2 separate regions of the Homo sapiens genome follow, and region 1 is linked to region 2. The links come from fine-mapping of genetic effects on gene expression. Tissue or cell type: neutrophils. Region 2 holds a variant in brackets; the other region holds the start of a gene. All regions are shown on one strand. Distances are from middle to middle.

Evidence for each region. PIP is the estimated chance that this variant, and not a neighbour inherited with it, causes the effect.
Region 1: it holds the start of SPRYD7, and the variant in region 2 is fine-mapped to the expression of SPRYD7 in neutrophils (BLUEPRINT, PIP 0.95).

The regions. Positions count from the first base shown.
Region 1 is chr13:49,932,286-49,940,392 of GRCh38, reverse strand. It overlaps SPRYD7 (SPRY domain containing 7), which reads left to right and starts at 4,053. Exons shown (of 5, transcript NM_020456.4): 1 at 4,053-4,263. The coding sequence starts at 4,158. RefSeq lists enhancers at 3,073-3,122, 3,993-4,242 and a silencer at 3,703-3,952.
Region 2 is chr13:49,971,405-49,979,511 of GRCh38, reverse strand. No RefSeq gene overlaps it. Among named protein-coding and RNA genes, the nearest start is that of MIR3613, 21 kb to the left of the region's middle. RefSeq lists silencers at 2,525-2,819, 6,715-6,907. The variant G/A (reference allele first, on the strand shown) is at 3,184.

The DNA of each region.
Region 1 (8,107 bases), 39 kb after region 2:
CAAATTAGGAATGTATATTCATTTTTTATTTTTTTATTTTTTTTTTGAGATAGAGTCTTGCTCTGTCACCCAGGCTGGAGTGCAATGGCACGATCTTGGTTCACTGCAACCTCCGCCTCTGGGTTCAAGCGATTCTCCTGCCTCAGCCTCCCAAGTAGCTGGGATTACAGGCACACACTGCCATGCCCGGCTAATTTTTTTGTTTGTTTTTAGTAGAGACAGGGTTTCACCATGTTGCCCAGGCTGGTTTCGAACTCCTGAGCTCAGGCAGTCCATATCCCTCGGCCTCCCAAAGTGCTGGGATTACAGGCGTGAACCACCGCACCAGACCTAGGAATGTATTTTTAAATGTAACACCCTAGGAGGCAGTTTGCAGAGTGGTTAAGAACACAGACCCTAGAGCCAGAATGTCTGTTTGAATTTAGCTTCATCCTTCATTGACTGTGCAACTTTTGAGTACATTTCTTATTTTTTCTTCAGCTTCCTCATCTGTAAAGTGGAGGATAGTTTTTCCCTCACATGGTTGTTACAAAGACTAAATTAGTTTATTTTTAAAAAACACTTAGAACAGTGCCTGGCAATAATAAGCACTACATAAATGTCAATCACTATTAGTTACTCAAAATTATAATAATGAATTGGTCAAGGCTCCAGAAATATGTCAGTTTTTAGAAAAATGAGTTTTTGTTAATGTTTCTGATTTTTAAAAAGATCACAAATGTGGTTTGGATTAGTCTAAGGAAAAATGTTTTGTTTAATAACTGATTAATGAGTTTTTAAAAACTCATTTCGTATGACCCAGTACAGAATGGGAAATTCACTAACAGAAGACGTCCAGCTGGCATAAAAAACATTAAAGAAAATCTTAAGCATAATGCTAATCTCAACTCTGAAACACAAGCTTTACATTATTGTTCTCAGTTCTCGAGTTCCTGGCATGTCTTGGAAGCAGACAGACTCTTTTTTTGAAGTAGTCATTCTTTCTTATTGCTTATGACTTAGATAAATGACCTTGAGAAACTATTTTTGGCTTTATTTGTGATTGTTATTTAAAGCGATAGCTGTGAAAGAGTGTCAAAACATCTTTAACGTTGTGCTTTTCAAAAAGAGAGGATAATTCCTTTGAAAGTAATAATGAATGGATATTAGAATCCCAGATATTAGAAGGAAAAGTGAGCTCATGGATGGTGTTAATCTGCCAAGACAGGGAAGTCTGTTTCAGGAGCTAACCAGTTTTGCTAACTTCATTCTGCTGAGCACACTCGAGTTGCTAGGATGGGGGCAAAGTGCACCGGGCAGCGCCCCAGCAAATTACTTTTCCAGCTAGGAAAGACTATGGCCCTTCTGCCTCTCTATAGTAATGTCCAATTCACGGCCATTTAGTGTCTGGCTTTTCATTGAAGATGTGACTGACTTGAATGGCCTAAATGTTTATTACATATATAATACATGTACTTCTTTTAATAATATTTCTGAACAAAATTTTTACTTTATAACAACTAATTCTATTATATTTTGTCTATACATGCATTATGGCAGCTTATATCCAATGTGGAGATAAATGAAACACACAAAAAAGGGCAAATCTGCATTTTGAACTGAGAGCATGTTTAAGAGGATTATAGCATTAATTATAAGAGAAAGAATTTGAGAGGCAGTGTTAAAGCAAACTAAATATGGCCTGAGAAGGACTCTGTACTTCTGTATTTGAGTCCTTGTGTACGAACTGTAACCTAGGTTAATAGGCAGACAAGCTTGAAAACCTAATTTAGGAGTATGCACCTGTAACAATAGCTGAGTCTTGGCCAATCCCAGCGGCCATACTTCAACCAGTCATACACTGCTGATTGTTCAAACTGTGTTCAAATAAGGCAAACGCCCCCCTGTAACCAATGCAGCTGTTTCTGTATCTCACTGCTGATTTCTGTACGTCACTTCCCTCTTTTTGTCTAAAAATTTGTTCTGACCACGAGGCATCCCTGGAGTCTCTCTGAATCTGCTGTGATTCTGGGGGCTGCCCAGTCATTCACTGCTCAGTTTAACTCCTTTAAATTTAGTTCAGCTGAAGTTTTTCTTCTAACAGGAATCAGACTGGTAAGCCTTGAATCCTACCTGTTTATCTCCTGCTCACCTGAAGTTGTAAAGTTTAGTACCTCTAGGCCTATTTCTTCACCTATAAAATGGGGACAATACTGACCTTGAAATCTTGAAATAATTCAACTAGATATATATATATGAACGGTAGAAAAATTTTGTCTCTCCAATATTCTGTTAAAATTCTCACCCCCTGCCCCGCCCCCAGCACTTCCCTGGGGTTAAAAAAAAAAAAAAAAAAAAAAATCAAAGCACTTAATTCCCAGCATAACGATGAAGGTTTGTCATAAAAGAAAATTTCTTGTGTGAAATGATTACCAAGAAAGTACTGCATACGCAATGGGGGAAAAGACCAACCCTCAATCAGTTTAATAATCACCTTGGTTATTAAATTCTATGGTAACTTAATTTCAACGTACAAAACTTTCCCTTAGTATTGTAATGAAAACACCATTTATAGAAAGAGAACCAGGAACCTGAAAAATTCCCCTCATTGCATAGATAGAAATCCTCCTTAAAAAACATTTATAACTCGGGTCACTAAAAGTTACGTATGGGAAATCATTATTTAAGTAGTGGGCATTTTATGTCCAGTTTCCCAGGACTTGATGATCCATCCCTAGGGAAGCCTTCAGGATGAAACTGATCTGGGAACAGAGGTTTGAGCTAGGTTAATTCTAGAGGTCGTCCCAGACATTTCCAGATGCCAAGCGGTATCTTTTTTTTTTTTTTTTTTTTTTTGGAGACAGAGTCTCTGTTGCCCAGGCTGGAGGGCAGTGGCGCGATCTAGGCTCACTGTAACCTCCGCCTCCCGGGTTTAAGCGATTCTCGTGCCACAACCTCCTGAGTGGCTGGGATTACAGGCGTGCACCACCGCACCCAGCTAATTTTTGTATTTTTAGTAGAGACGGGGTTTCACCATGTTGGCCATCCTGGTCTTGAACTCCTGACCTCAGGTGATCCGCCCACCTCAGCCTCCCAAAGTGCTGGGATTACAGGCGTGAGCCACTGCACCCGGCCTGAAGATGTAAAATCTACCACGGAAGGATGATCTAAGTGGGGAAGGAGATGACAGGTGACAGCCTCCCGTGTGGAAGCAGAAAGTAGCGGACGGTAGGAGCCGAAGGCTTCCCTCGGGACCCAGCAGACTTCCCGCAGCCTCCTGGGTTCCCGTCACATTCCTCGGAACCCTCAGTGCACCAGACAGGGGGAGCTTGGAAGAGGCAGGTCAAGAATCGCCCCCGACCCCGCCCCAGCGTTCTGCTCCCAGGGCGGCCTCCCACGCGCCCCGGACCACGCAGCCCGATGGGCCAGGTAGGGCGCGTCTCTGCACCGAAAATGCATTAGGGCCCGCGTGAGCCCCGGTGAACATCCACAGTGCAGTCACTAACAGGCATTACTCCTGGGGCCCACGTGAGTCTATTTAGCATGTGAGGGAAACCAGCCACGGCAGGGAGACTGGGGCTCTCCGTGGTGGCAAAGCCTGCTCAACCTGGGCCCGCGGAGGGAAAACTCGGAAGTCATTTCCATTAGCTCCCCTTCCCCCAAACTGATTCGCTTCTGTCAATCCATCCCTAGAAATAATGTCGAGGCCGGGACCAAGGGGTGCTGCGTTTTAAAAATTCTGCATAGGAAAACCCCTGGAAGTACTGAGGGACAGACAGCCCCACTCACCTGTCAGCCCTGGGGGCGTGCGCGAAACCGCCCAAGGAGAAAAAACCAGCTGGTGCGCAGGCGCACGCCGTCCCACATCCGCAGGCCCGCAACGCCACGCCCCCTGCCACGCCTCCGCGCGCCACTAGCCCCACCCGTCTCCCCGGCCCAGCCCGGCCGCTCGCCCTGTCCGGTCTCTCCCCGGCCCCTTGATTCTCCGCGTCTTCCTCGCAGGCCAGCCTAAGCTCAGCCTGCATTGCGCCCTCCCGGCCTAGGGTGTCGCTGTACCGGCCTCCGAGCTCCACATAGACAAGTCCGGACCTCGGGCGGGGGCAGGAGACGGAGCTGAGCGGCGGGGGGCAGTGTCGCCTCGGTCTAGGGACGGCGGCGGAGTCGGTGGTCCCTGCGCGATGGCCACCTCGGTGTTGTGCTGCCTGCGGTGCTGCAGAGACGGGGGGACTGGCCACATCCCTCTGAAGGAGATGCCGGCCGTGCAGCTGGACACGCAGCACATGGGTAAGGGCCCTCCCTTCCCCAGACCCAACGGCTCACGGGGGCCGGGCGCGGCGGGCAGGGGGACCTTCAGGGTCAGAGGGTCCCCACGCTGCCCCGCCGCGCCGGCGACGCTGCGCCGACACCATTTCGTCTCGCAGATCTCTCCAGAAGCCGGCGGACTCCACCTGGGCCCGGTTCTGTGTTCAAGGCTGCGCAGCCCTCTCTGTGTCTGTCATCGCGAATGGGCGTGTGGACCTCCCATTTTCACAGGAATCTCGGAGGCTTCCTCCGGAGATGTCACACGTCCTCGGGCGAGGGGGCGGAGAGTGCCCTTCTGGCGCGCCCCAGTGAAAACCTACACATTTTCAGAATGCTTCTAGGTCCGGTCTTGCTCCTCCTCCTGCCCTGACTGTCGGTCCTGTCTCTTGAGCCCCATCATTTATAGGTTGAATCCTATATTATTGGAAGTAATTTTCCTCTCACCTCCTAAAGTCGAAACAAGGCAGACTGCAGAAGTCTGAAGTCGCACCTCAGGTCAGAACTTGCCATTTCAACTAAAACCTCCCATTGCCCGACTCCTTAGTCATTGTGAGAGGTACTGTAATTTCATCTGACTGGCCTCTTCCCAACAGGTCTAACTGTTGAAAAATAAAATAGCACTTTGCTCCTTTGCATCTTGCTTTATCCTTTTAATTCCAAATCCATATAATTTATCTAACATTCTTCCTCTCCCATCATAGCCTCTTTCACCACCTTATTATTTCTTAGACTTTTCCCAGGTAGTTTCATGCTTCTGGAATGTGGTTCTAGAAGGAGAGATTTCCCAATATAATTATTTCAGTTAGAGTACTGTCTTTTTGTGGATTATTTTATTCTAACTGTACTTCTGCACTTTTGATTTTTTACACGTTTCTGATTGTTTAAAGGACAGTGCATTGAAATAAAAAGGCACTTCTTAATATTTATGATAAAACTCTCTCGCCCAGTTTCCTTATAATTCTGGAAACACTCTGCCCACTGTATTTTTGTATAACACATACTAAATGTGATAACTATATAATCACCTTGTATGTGTGTATTTACTTTTAATTCTCAGATCTCCCAAATGTAGTACAGAACCTTAATACATAAGTAATCTTTAAATTATTTTTTATCCATCATTATTTATAGACGATGGAGTTCAAATTCTATAGTTTTCCTCAGAAAATATTTCCATTTCAGTTACTCATTTACTGAAGTGATATTTATTAAGCAATTATCAGGTGGCAGGCATTGTTATAAGTGCTGAGAATATAGTGAAGGACAACCATACATAATTCCTGGAACTCATGATCAACTGCAGCACTTCTTCCTATCTTTACTGTTAGACTCTTGAATTACTGCAGTCTCCTCTTTGGAGCATTCCTTTTCTCTGTCATCTGTTTCCTCTAGGAAGAGCTGGTCAGATATACTCATTCCACTGTGTTTTATTTCTCCAAAGCTGTCCAGCAACTGTCAGCTACTAACTGGATGAAATAGAGTAATGTCATCTCCAAATTTTCTAACTGCATGGAAGTTTTTTCTTCTTCTTTTCTTTTTTTTTTTTTTTTTTTTTTGAGACGGAGTTTCACTATTGTTGCCCAGGCTGGAGTGCTGTGGCACAATCTCCACTCACTGCAACCTCCGCCTCCCGGGTTCAAGCAATTCTTCTGCCTCAGCCTCTTGAGTAGCTGGGATTACAGGCGCCCACCATCAAGCCCGGCTAATTTTTGTATTTTTAGTAGAGACAGAGTTTCACCATGTTGGTCAGGCTGGTCTCGAACTGACCTCGTGATCTGCCTGCCTCTCAGCCTCCCAAAGTGCTGGGATTATAGGGGTGAGCCACCACGCCCGGCCAGGAAGTTTTTTCTTAGCCTGTCTTTCTATAAACTTAAATTATTCAATCACAGAGGAGCCTGATTTGAGAACCTGAATAAAATGAAAGAAAAGGGTTGTTGAGTTAGAAGAACATGTTTCAAGCATGAATTGATCTTGACTTGAAAATAGAAACACATGGATTTGGTGGTGTGAAAGATTATTATATTAAATAACCTAAAAAATGTGATTGCTTTTTTTTTTTTAACAAAATTGTCTGTATACTTCAAGTGATTCTCCGAGGGTTGTCACTTATTTTAGTGATGTTGTATTACTTAAAACCACTTTGGAATTCCTCTTTTGGAATTTTCTATGGCATAATTTTTGTAAGTATTATCATTGATGCCATATCTTTGGCTTTTAATTGTGAATCGACATTTTAGAAACAAATGACTTCCAAGGCAGCTACTTTGAAAGGGACACCGCTCATTTGGAAATTTATGTTTCTTAAAACATCCTCTGTGGCTATGTTTATGTGGCATTCTGGCTGTACTCAAATTTGCCTTGACCGTCTAAGCAGCACCAATCATTAAAAGTACAGATTCTAAAACCGTCTGTGTACTTAAGAGAAATGGGATAAGCTTAAAATGATTCCCTAATGACTCATAAACACCCTGAATATTCTTTCTTTCTTTTTTTTTCTTTTTTTTTTTTTTGAGAGGGAATCTCGCTCTGTCGCCCAGGCTGGAGTGCAGTGGCCTGATCTCAGCTCACTGCAACCTCCGCCTCCTGGGTTCAATTAATTCTCCTGTCTCAGCCTCCTGAGTAGCTGGGACTATAGGCGCCCACCACCATGCCTGGCTAATTTTTGTATTTTTAGTAGAGATGGGGGTTTCACCATGTTGGCCAGGCTGGTCTTGAACTCCTGACCTCAAGTAATCTGCCTGCCTCAGCCTCCCAAAGAGCTGGGATTACAGGTGTTAGCCACCTCGCCTGGCCAAGAGTGTTATATCCCATTGTGCTCTGCAAAAGTCCTGAGATTCTGATTGTAGTTGATTAGGTCATGTAGCAGTTCTTGACTCAGTTACTGTGGCCAAGAAATGTGGAGGGCACTGATTGCCTTAACCTAGATCAAATGTTGTACACCTGAAGCAGAGATTGAGTCAGCTTTCTTGGAACTGTTTTGATCTCCAGAGGGAAGTCTGTCGGGAGAGGGAGAACAGATACTGCATGTCCACTACAAAGTGCTTAGCACAGCATATTAATTCAACCTTTATCAGTTATTTGATGAGCAGCTGCTCAATGCCAAGCACTGCATGGTCTTTGCCATCAAGGAGGATGCTCTCCAGTTGAAATTACTGGAGGTATATGGAGTAGCCAGATGCAAATTATTTATAAAGGTACTTTCCCAGAATTTGGGGGTTAACTTTTTTAATTAGAAAAAAAAAGATGTTAATGAATTTTTAGTAATCATACAATAGGATCTCAGTTTTGCCTTGTTTAAGGGAGAGCATCTCTTAACCAGTTTAGAATTGTGTTAGAATCTGAAAATTTTGCATTTCTTTTATGTATTTGTACCAAATAATTTTGTTTAACTGTTAATTCAACCTTTTGTTACTATGACCTAATTTTATTTAACCCCTTCTGGAAGAGTCCCATACAGTTCGAATATTCAGATCTGCTTGGCTGGTACAGTTATTGCCAGCAAAGTGGTGGTAGTGGCCACAAGTATGGGGAGTTATGCATTGGTGTATGGGCTATTTCTTACATATTAGAATTATGTAATTCTGTGTATTCTTACATGTTAGAATTATGTATATTCTCTGATAGACATTTTCCTAAATCAAATTGGTACTAGGATCACATCAGGAGACAGTGTCTCTCTTTCTCACTCTCATCTATAGATGTCGTTTCATCTAAAAAATTTTCTACGAGAATAAAGTGCATGTAAGAATGTTAAAACCTTGTTTACATATTTGCAATGTGATTGAAGTAGCTATCTTAATAAACATTTTAAGATCCTAAAGTTAGC
Region 2 (8,107 bases):
AACAATGACTTTTTTAAAAAACAGGCATTTACTGCATTTTCGTACACTAGAAGCTAAAATACCATGCTGTCCAGTTCAAAACAGGACACCTGGCAACCCTGTTCCTAACAGCTTTCTGCAAAGCCAACACCCAGTGCTTTCTGGCTGCATTGGCCTGTCCTCATTTCCCCCTGGAAAACTTGTTTTAAACAGTACAGATAACATTCTGCCTCTATTACAATTAGCAGCTTCTCTCACCAGGTTATCTAGTGTGGCAAGTGCTAGTGCGGAGTCACTTAGTATCTTCTTTCAAAACCTCCCAGTGGCTGCCTTCAGGTAGCATGTGAAAAGCTGCTCATGGGGAATTCAGCAGCTGCTTCAGGCCCTCCAGGGCATTTCTTGCTGGCATCTTCTGCCTCACCAGATCGCCCTGATTATTAGTGATCTGGGCCCCCTACCTAATGGAAAACCAGCCACTCTTCTTCCCAGCCCCAATGGATATTGATGAGGGGTCCTTAAATCTGGGATCCTTTCCCCTCCTTGCCCAATAATTGAACTCCTAAAATCCTTTTACTACCTGGGAATCTGCAAAGACAACCTTGAATTTGAACTGGAGCTAGAAGGACTTCCTCCGAACGAATTTGCCCATAGATGACTCTCTGGTACATGGTCTCTGTTGTTCAACTTTCTCTATTCTGAAGTCTAGAAGACACCCTTGCTTCTGAAAGTGGGGCCTAAGAACCTGCAGCCTCACCAGGGAGCTTGGTAGAAATCCAGAATCTGAGGCAGGATTCTAGACTTATTGGATCAGATTCTGCATTTCAACAAGATTCCCCAGTGACCCCCAGGCATCTTCAAATTTGAGAGGCCAGGAAAGTGCTCAGGCCCTGCCCTTCCCTTCCCGTTGGCTGGGGAGAATTCCTGTAATTTGCCCTGTTTACGGGTCCTTAATCTCCAACTTCACTGTCCTCGCTTTCCAAAGAATCCTGAGTGGCTTCCTTCCAACACCTTATCTGTCTTCCCCCACGCCCCTGAAGCCAGGGCCTCTTTTCTTCAAGGCCACCCCCCAACTCATCTCAGGCTGAGGCTCCTCTCTTGAGGCCATATCCCATGGTAGCATTTCTTTGAGGGCTGCTTTTCTGCCGTTTTTCTCCCCAGGTAGGGCCTCTAAAACCGATGGAAGTGAAGTGCTACACCTCAGAGCTGCTTTAGCCCTTAGAGCTGGCCAGGGTCTGAGTGGGCCTCTCACAGGGCCACAGGACTGCCCTTTCCCCCAGCATGCCTAGAAGCTGAGACCACTCACACCACATGAACATGCTATCCTTGTTCCTCTTTCCTGCCAGCCTCAACACAACCAGAATACAGCCCAATAATGGCTGCCTACAAATGGGAGGCACCCAGGGAAGGGAGGGGGTGCTGATTAAGAACCAGCCTGGAGGAGGATCATGGTTTCTCTGAAACAAGAAGGAGGTGAGGGTTGATGCGGAAGGTATATTAGAAATGCTTCAAGCACTTGATGCTTTGAGGGTTTGGGGATTTGAGTTTGGGTTTGTTTTTTAAGCTTAACAATGTGAAAAAGATGTCAAATAACTTTTCTGAACTGTGGCAATCAGAGCCTTGTCCAGAATCATAACTTAATGGCTTTTTGGCTCTCAATTTGATGGTCAGTTTGGCTAACCAACACTTTTTAATTCTGTGTTATTTATTACTCAGTTGATCCCCCCCATAATATGTTAAAAGCCTACTTCCAACCTGTTAAAATGTACCCTTGGAGTGCTGTCCAGATTCACCATTAAAATAGTGTCTTTCCAGTCTTATGTATTTTATTCAGCAGTTACTACAGTACTTTTTTTTTTTTTTTTGACAGGATCTCATTCTGTTGCCCAGGCTGGAGTCCAGTGGTGTGATCACAGCTCACTGAAGCTTTGACCTCCTAGGCTCAAGCTATCTTCCTGCCTCAGGCTCCTGAGTAGCTGGGACTATAGGCACATGCCACTATACCTGGCTAATTTTTAATTTTTTGTAGAAACTGGGTCTCGCTATGTTGCCCAGGCTGGTCTCGAACTCCTGGGTTCAAGCATTCCTGACACTTTGGCCTCCCAAAGTGCTGGGATTACAGGCATGAGATGCCATGCCTGGCCATATTTTTATTTTTAAATCTTTCTATTTAAATAAGGAGAGGGAGAGAGAGAGAAAGCTCTAGGTGCATTTTTTCCAAATGGACACCTTGCCATGTTTTCAACACACATCTAAAGCCTGAATTGAGAGTATAATTTTTCTGTAGATACATCACCTTGAGGAATTTTATAAACTTCAGTTTCCTCATCTGAGAAATGAGGTAGTTGGATTAGATGAACTGGCTCATCAAGTGAGTATAAGGAGCCTTCCAAATTTAAGAATTATTAACATTTCCCGGAAGACTAACCAGGCAATTTTTCTTCTTTAGGTTTGACTTTCTGAGATGTCATGGCTTAGTATTCTTTAAGCAAATTCTGGAATGTTCTTGTCCCTTTGGAATAATTGTAATGTGGATTTGTTCTGTGCAACTGATGATATTCTAATGTGTTTGGGCAGGTTTAAGTCTAAATTTCCAAAGTCTCACACCTGTGGTTTTACCAAAAAGGTACTGCTCAAGGAAACCAGTGATGGGCAAAGGATGCATGGTATAGCTATGATGCAAGAGCGCCCTCTGCAGGCCATGCGAAGATGAGTCTCTTTCTTAAAGGGTAGCTTTTCCGCTCTTTGTGTAGAGTACAACCCTTCCCTTCCTCCTGTAGCATTCTCATCAAGAAACATTTGTTTAGTGCTTACCCTGAGCTAGGCACAGTGTGCTTAGGGCTGGGAACACAAAAATAAAAGCATCCTAGGCTTAAAGGATCTCACGGTCTAATGGGGTACATCCCAATCAGATCATTATAATGCAACCTGAGAGGTGTGTCACTGGAGCTGTGCCTCATGTCCCCATTAGTTTGCAATCACAAGTTGCACACAAGAGCCGAAATCAAACTGTACAGTACAATGCTTTTTTGTTAGGAGAGAAGGACTGGTGACTCACCCTAGCATTTTCTCTTTGCACAGAAACAGATGCCCTGCCCAGAAGCAACACGGCTAATGGGTGCCACCGTGGAGACCCAGGCAACCTGAGAGTAGTCCTGACAGCCAGACCTCCAGGGTGGAAATGGGAAGGTCTACAGAGAAAGGTCA[G/A]GATTTAACAGGGAAATGGAGGAGGGCAAGAATGGGGGTCAGGAGGTATCTACGCATTTTGATATGAAATTAAGAAGTTCATTTAAAATATACAACCAAGGCCCGTGACACTTTTTGTAACAAGATTCTAGCTTATCTTCCCACTAGATTTTGTTGGACTTTTTTCAAATTGTATCTGATTGTGTTTTTCAAACTAGGCCAGGAGGGCCCCTCAACTTCTAAAATACAAAAATTCTTTCTGCTCCTCTTTTCAAATCTTCTCAGATTCTGGACACACCCAGAAATTCCATGTGCCTTTTTACTCCCTTAATCCTGTTAACTTTTTGTCTCTTCTTAGCAATGACTTCCTTTCATTTTAGAGAAAGTTCTGCTGGTAACATACTGTATAAGCCAGGAGAGAAAAAGAACTTGAAAGAGGAACACATTTTTCTTCATTTTTTTTTTTTCAAAAAAGGTAAGGGAAAAAAATAAAGGAAGTGGAGAAATATACTACTCAGTACAGTTGTCAAACAAATTTCTTGGAACCATGGCCTACAAGAATACCTATCTTAACTGCATTGCACTAGAAACCACATTTTCATATTCCTTTTGTGATAATTCTAAGATAATGAATTAGATGTTAGCCATTGTTTTCCAGAATAGAATTTCTGGAGTTACTGGTAGTTCAGGGAATTTTAGTCACAAGATATATATTTTCTGTACCTTTGTGTGTGTGTATATGTGTGTATGCATATATACTTATATACATGCACATATATACACATACACACAAACATGCATGTGCTATAGCTTTTGAATGGAGATATATGTGTGTGTACACACACACACATTCATTCATTCATTTATATCATACAGCTTCTCTGAAGAGCAACAGGAGAAAAATGCAGGAAATATAAAGGCAACCTGGGGTCAGTCCTATGCAGTGAGCTCTTTGAGGTCTCCATCAGAAATAAAAGATTTCAGTCTTTTTTGGCTGGGCACAGTGGCTCACACCTGTAATCCTAACACCTTGGGAGGCCAAGGTGGGAGGATTAACAAAAAATACAAAAATTAGCCGGGGGTGGTGGTGGGAGCCTGTAGTCCCAGCTACTTGGGAGGCTAAGATGGTAGGATCACCTGAGCCAGGGAGATGGAGGCTGCGGTGAGCCATGATCGCACCACTGCACACCAGCCTGGGTGACAGAGTGAGACCCTGTCCTAAAAAAAAAAAAAAAAAAAAATCAATCTTTTCATAGTTATTCAAATTAAAACAACAAAATAGAGATGTGAAGACTTGGCTCAGGAAGATTCAGTCATCTCAACAGTCACTGTAAAGAACTGCCATCAGACTCCTTTTGACTCTAAATGGCAAAGGATACCAACACTGTTCTTCCTAGGAAGCTAATCTATAGTTAAAATAGGCACATTGCATAGCTCTGTGTATCTACAGTGTTGTAATTGTCTAACAGAGTGGAGATACTAAATGTACTCAGTGCATAAAACACATTTTATTTAAAATAGAGAGGAAATTCCTGAGGGAACAATAAAATCAAGGATGTTACAGTAATTTCATGAGCCATCCAGATATAATTACCAACAAATAAAAATAAAATATTTCATAATGCTCTGTTTTATTTAAATATTGGCTTATAAGGCATTGTTCTGTTATTTTCTTTGGTTAAAACAAAGTTTTTAAAATCAATATCTCATACTTGTTAGTATGTATTAGTGGGAAACCTTTATAATAAAGTAATTTTATGTGCAAAAGCTGCCTAGTTTCCAGCTCTGGGGCATTCCGGGAGCACAAACCTCAGGGGCATCATTATGGCCCAAAAAACCTGGGGATTGAGTTGACGGGGCTTTACCCAAGAGGACCTAAAACAACACAGTTAAAGATGGAGAAACAGGCCGGGTACGGTGGCCTCCCACTTTGGGAGGCCAAGGTGGACAGATCACCTGAGATCCGGAGTTCGAGATCAGCCTGACCAACATGGAGAAATCCTATCTCTACTGAAAGTACAAAATTAGCCAGGTGTGGTGGCACATGCCTGTAATCCCAGGTACTCAGGAGGCTGAGGCAGGAGAATCGCTTGAACCCAGGGGGCAGAGGTTGCAGTGAGCCGAGATCACGCGATTGCACTCCAGCCTGGGCAATAAGAGCCAGACTCCGTCTCAAAAGAAAAAAAAAAAAGATGGAGAAACAGAAGCCCAGGGTTCAGCTGTTAAGAGAGGCCTGGCAAGGGACAGTCAATAATGGGAGAACAGTAGGGGTTAGAACCTAGATGCTGAGAATAAGATAAAACAAGGCTTCACAAGGCCTGAATCAACTAGAACTAAGTTTAAAACTAAAAGTATGGATGAGAAGATGTGCAAGACTATTCCTTGTCCCTCTTAAATTAGCAATTTAATTTACACTGAGAAATGTATGGCCATAAGGGACCAAAAAAATAATAATAATGTTGACATGATTGCCTTTTTTTTTTTTTTTGAGATGGAGTCTCACACTGTCACCCAGGTGGTGTGCAGTGGTGCGATCTCGGCTCACCGTAACCTCTGCCTCCCAGGTTCAAGCAATTCTCCTACTTCAGTCTCCCAAGCTAGGATTACAGGTGCCCACCACCACACCCAGCTAATTTTTTTTATTTTTAGTAGAGACGGGGTTTCACCAGGTTAGTCAGGCTGGTCTCGAACTCCTGACCTCAAGTGATCCACCCGCCTCAGCCTCCGAAAGTGCTGGGATTACAGGCGTGAGCTACTGCACCCGGATTGGCCGATTTCCTTCTCAAATTCTAGACATGTGGTGTGACAGCTCTTAATCACAAGCTATTTTATGGGTTTACCTGACAAAGCACTGTTACAGAGACTAGAAATACCCAAAGAAATACTGCATCCTCTCCGCAGACCTACATGGGAATCAGAAGGTGGACTGCTGAACAACAGATCAGCACAAGAAGTTCAAAGAATGAAGTTGCAATGTCATTAGGCTATGATAGCTTAGGCATCCATCTGACTATTGGAGTGTCTTATTCCCATACAGCATCTATATTAGGGCTAGATTTGCTACTGGGGCCCGAAATGCTGGCAGTCCTATGGTATTCAGAGCTGTAAAAAAAGAGGGAATCAAAAAGACTAGGAGTTCATTTCGACAGCCTTGGCAATGTATAGGATTTTGCGATTTTCTTTTGTAAATTGGAGATTCTTTTTTTCATGCATAAAACATTTTTCATAGAACTGTAAAAAGCTCCCAGACCCTTGGTGTGGGGCCTATACTATTCAATGGATAAACTGGCCCTCTCTGTCGTAGCCTCAAAGATGTAGGAAACAGCATTCCTGATAGAATTAAGGGAGTTGGAGGTGCTGGTTACTGGGAATAAGCCACGATGGAAGCTCCATGGGAGCAGAAGCAAAACTGTATCCCCAGCACCTACACAGGGCCTGGTTCCTAGTAGGGAAAGGTAAATATTTGAAAATGAATGAACAAATTACTAGATAAACCAGAAAGTGAAAGTAGAAGGGAGATGAGATAACTAGATTTAAGTAAACAAAACCTCAAGAAATCAGAATTCAAGAAATTATATCAAGTATAAAAGACTCTAGCAGGCTGGACGTGGTGGCCCACGCCTGTAATCCCAGCACTTTGGGAGGCCGAGGCGGGTGGATCAAGTTTGAGACCGGCCTGACAAACCTGGTGAAACCCCGTCTCTACTAAAAATACAAAAACTTAGCTGGGCATGCTGGAAGGTGCCTGTAATCCAGCTACTTGGGAAGCTGAGGCAGGGGAATCACTTGAACCCGGGAGGTGGAGGTTGTAGTGAGCCGAGATCACACCATTGCACTCCAGGCTGGGCGACAGAGTGAGACTCCACCTCCACCCCCCCAAAAAAAATAAAGGCTCTAGCATCTGGGAACCAGAATACAGGTCTAATCTTTCACAGTTCCTGCTGACCTAGGGTAGCATCACATTTCTAGACATTTCCCCAATATATTATTGTGAAAATTTGCAAACAGAGCAAAGTTGAAAAAATTTTATAGTGAACAGCATATACCTACCATGTAGACTACCACTAACATTTCACTATAGTTGGCTTATCACATGTCTGTACCTTTCTCTAAGCATTCGTCAATCCCTGTTTTTTTTTTTTTTGGGCGCATTTAAAAGTAAATTGTAGACATCAGTAGACTTCCGCCTAAATAACTCAGCATGTATATCATTGACTAGGTTAAATATTTGTTGACTTTTTTCTTTTGAAGTAAAATATGTATACAATGAAATGTATAAATCTTATGTGCTTGTGTGTAAATTTCCAAGTTTTAATAATAATAAATGCCTATACCTTTGTATCCCAAATTGCTATCGAGACATAGAACATTACTATCACTTCAGAAATTTCCTTTTTTTTTTTTTTAATTGAGACGGAGTCTTGTTCTGTCACCCAGGCTGGAGTGCGGTGGCACAATCTCGGCTCACTGCAGCCTCAACCTCGGGCTCAAGCAGTCCTCCTGCCTCAGCCTCCAGAGTAGCTTTTTTGTAGAGACAGGGTTTCACAATGTTGCCCAGGCTGGTCCTGAACTCCTGGGCTCCAGTAACCTGCCCACCTCTACCTCCCAAAGTGCTAGGATTATAGGACTGAGCCACCGCGCCCGGCCCCATAATTTTTTTTTTGAGACGGAGTTTTGCTCTTGTCGCCCAGGCTGGAGTGCAATGGCTTGATCTTGGCTCACTGCAACCTCCGCCTCCCGGGTTCAAGTGATTCTCCTGCCTCAGCCTCCCAAGTAGCTGGGATTACAGGCATGCTCACCACACCTGGCTAATTTTGTATTTTTAGTAGAGATGGAGTTTCTCCATGTTGGTCAGGCTGGTCTTGAACTCCCGACCTCAGGTGATCCGCCCACCTCAGCCTCCCAAAGTGCTGCAATTACAGGCATGAGCCACCACACCCAGCCG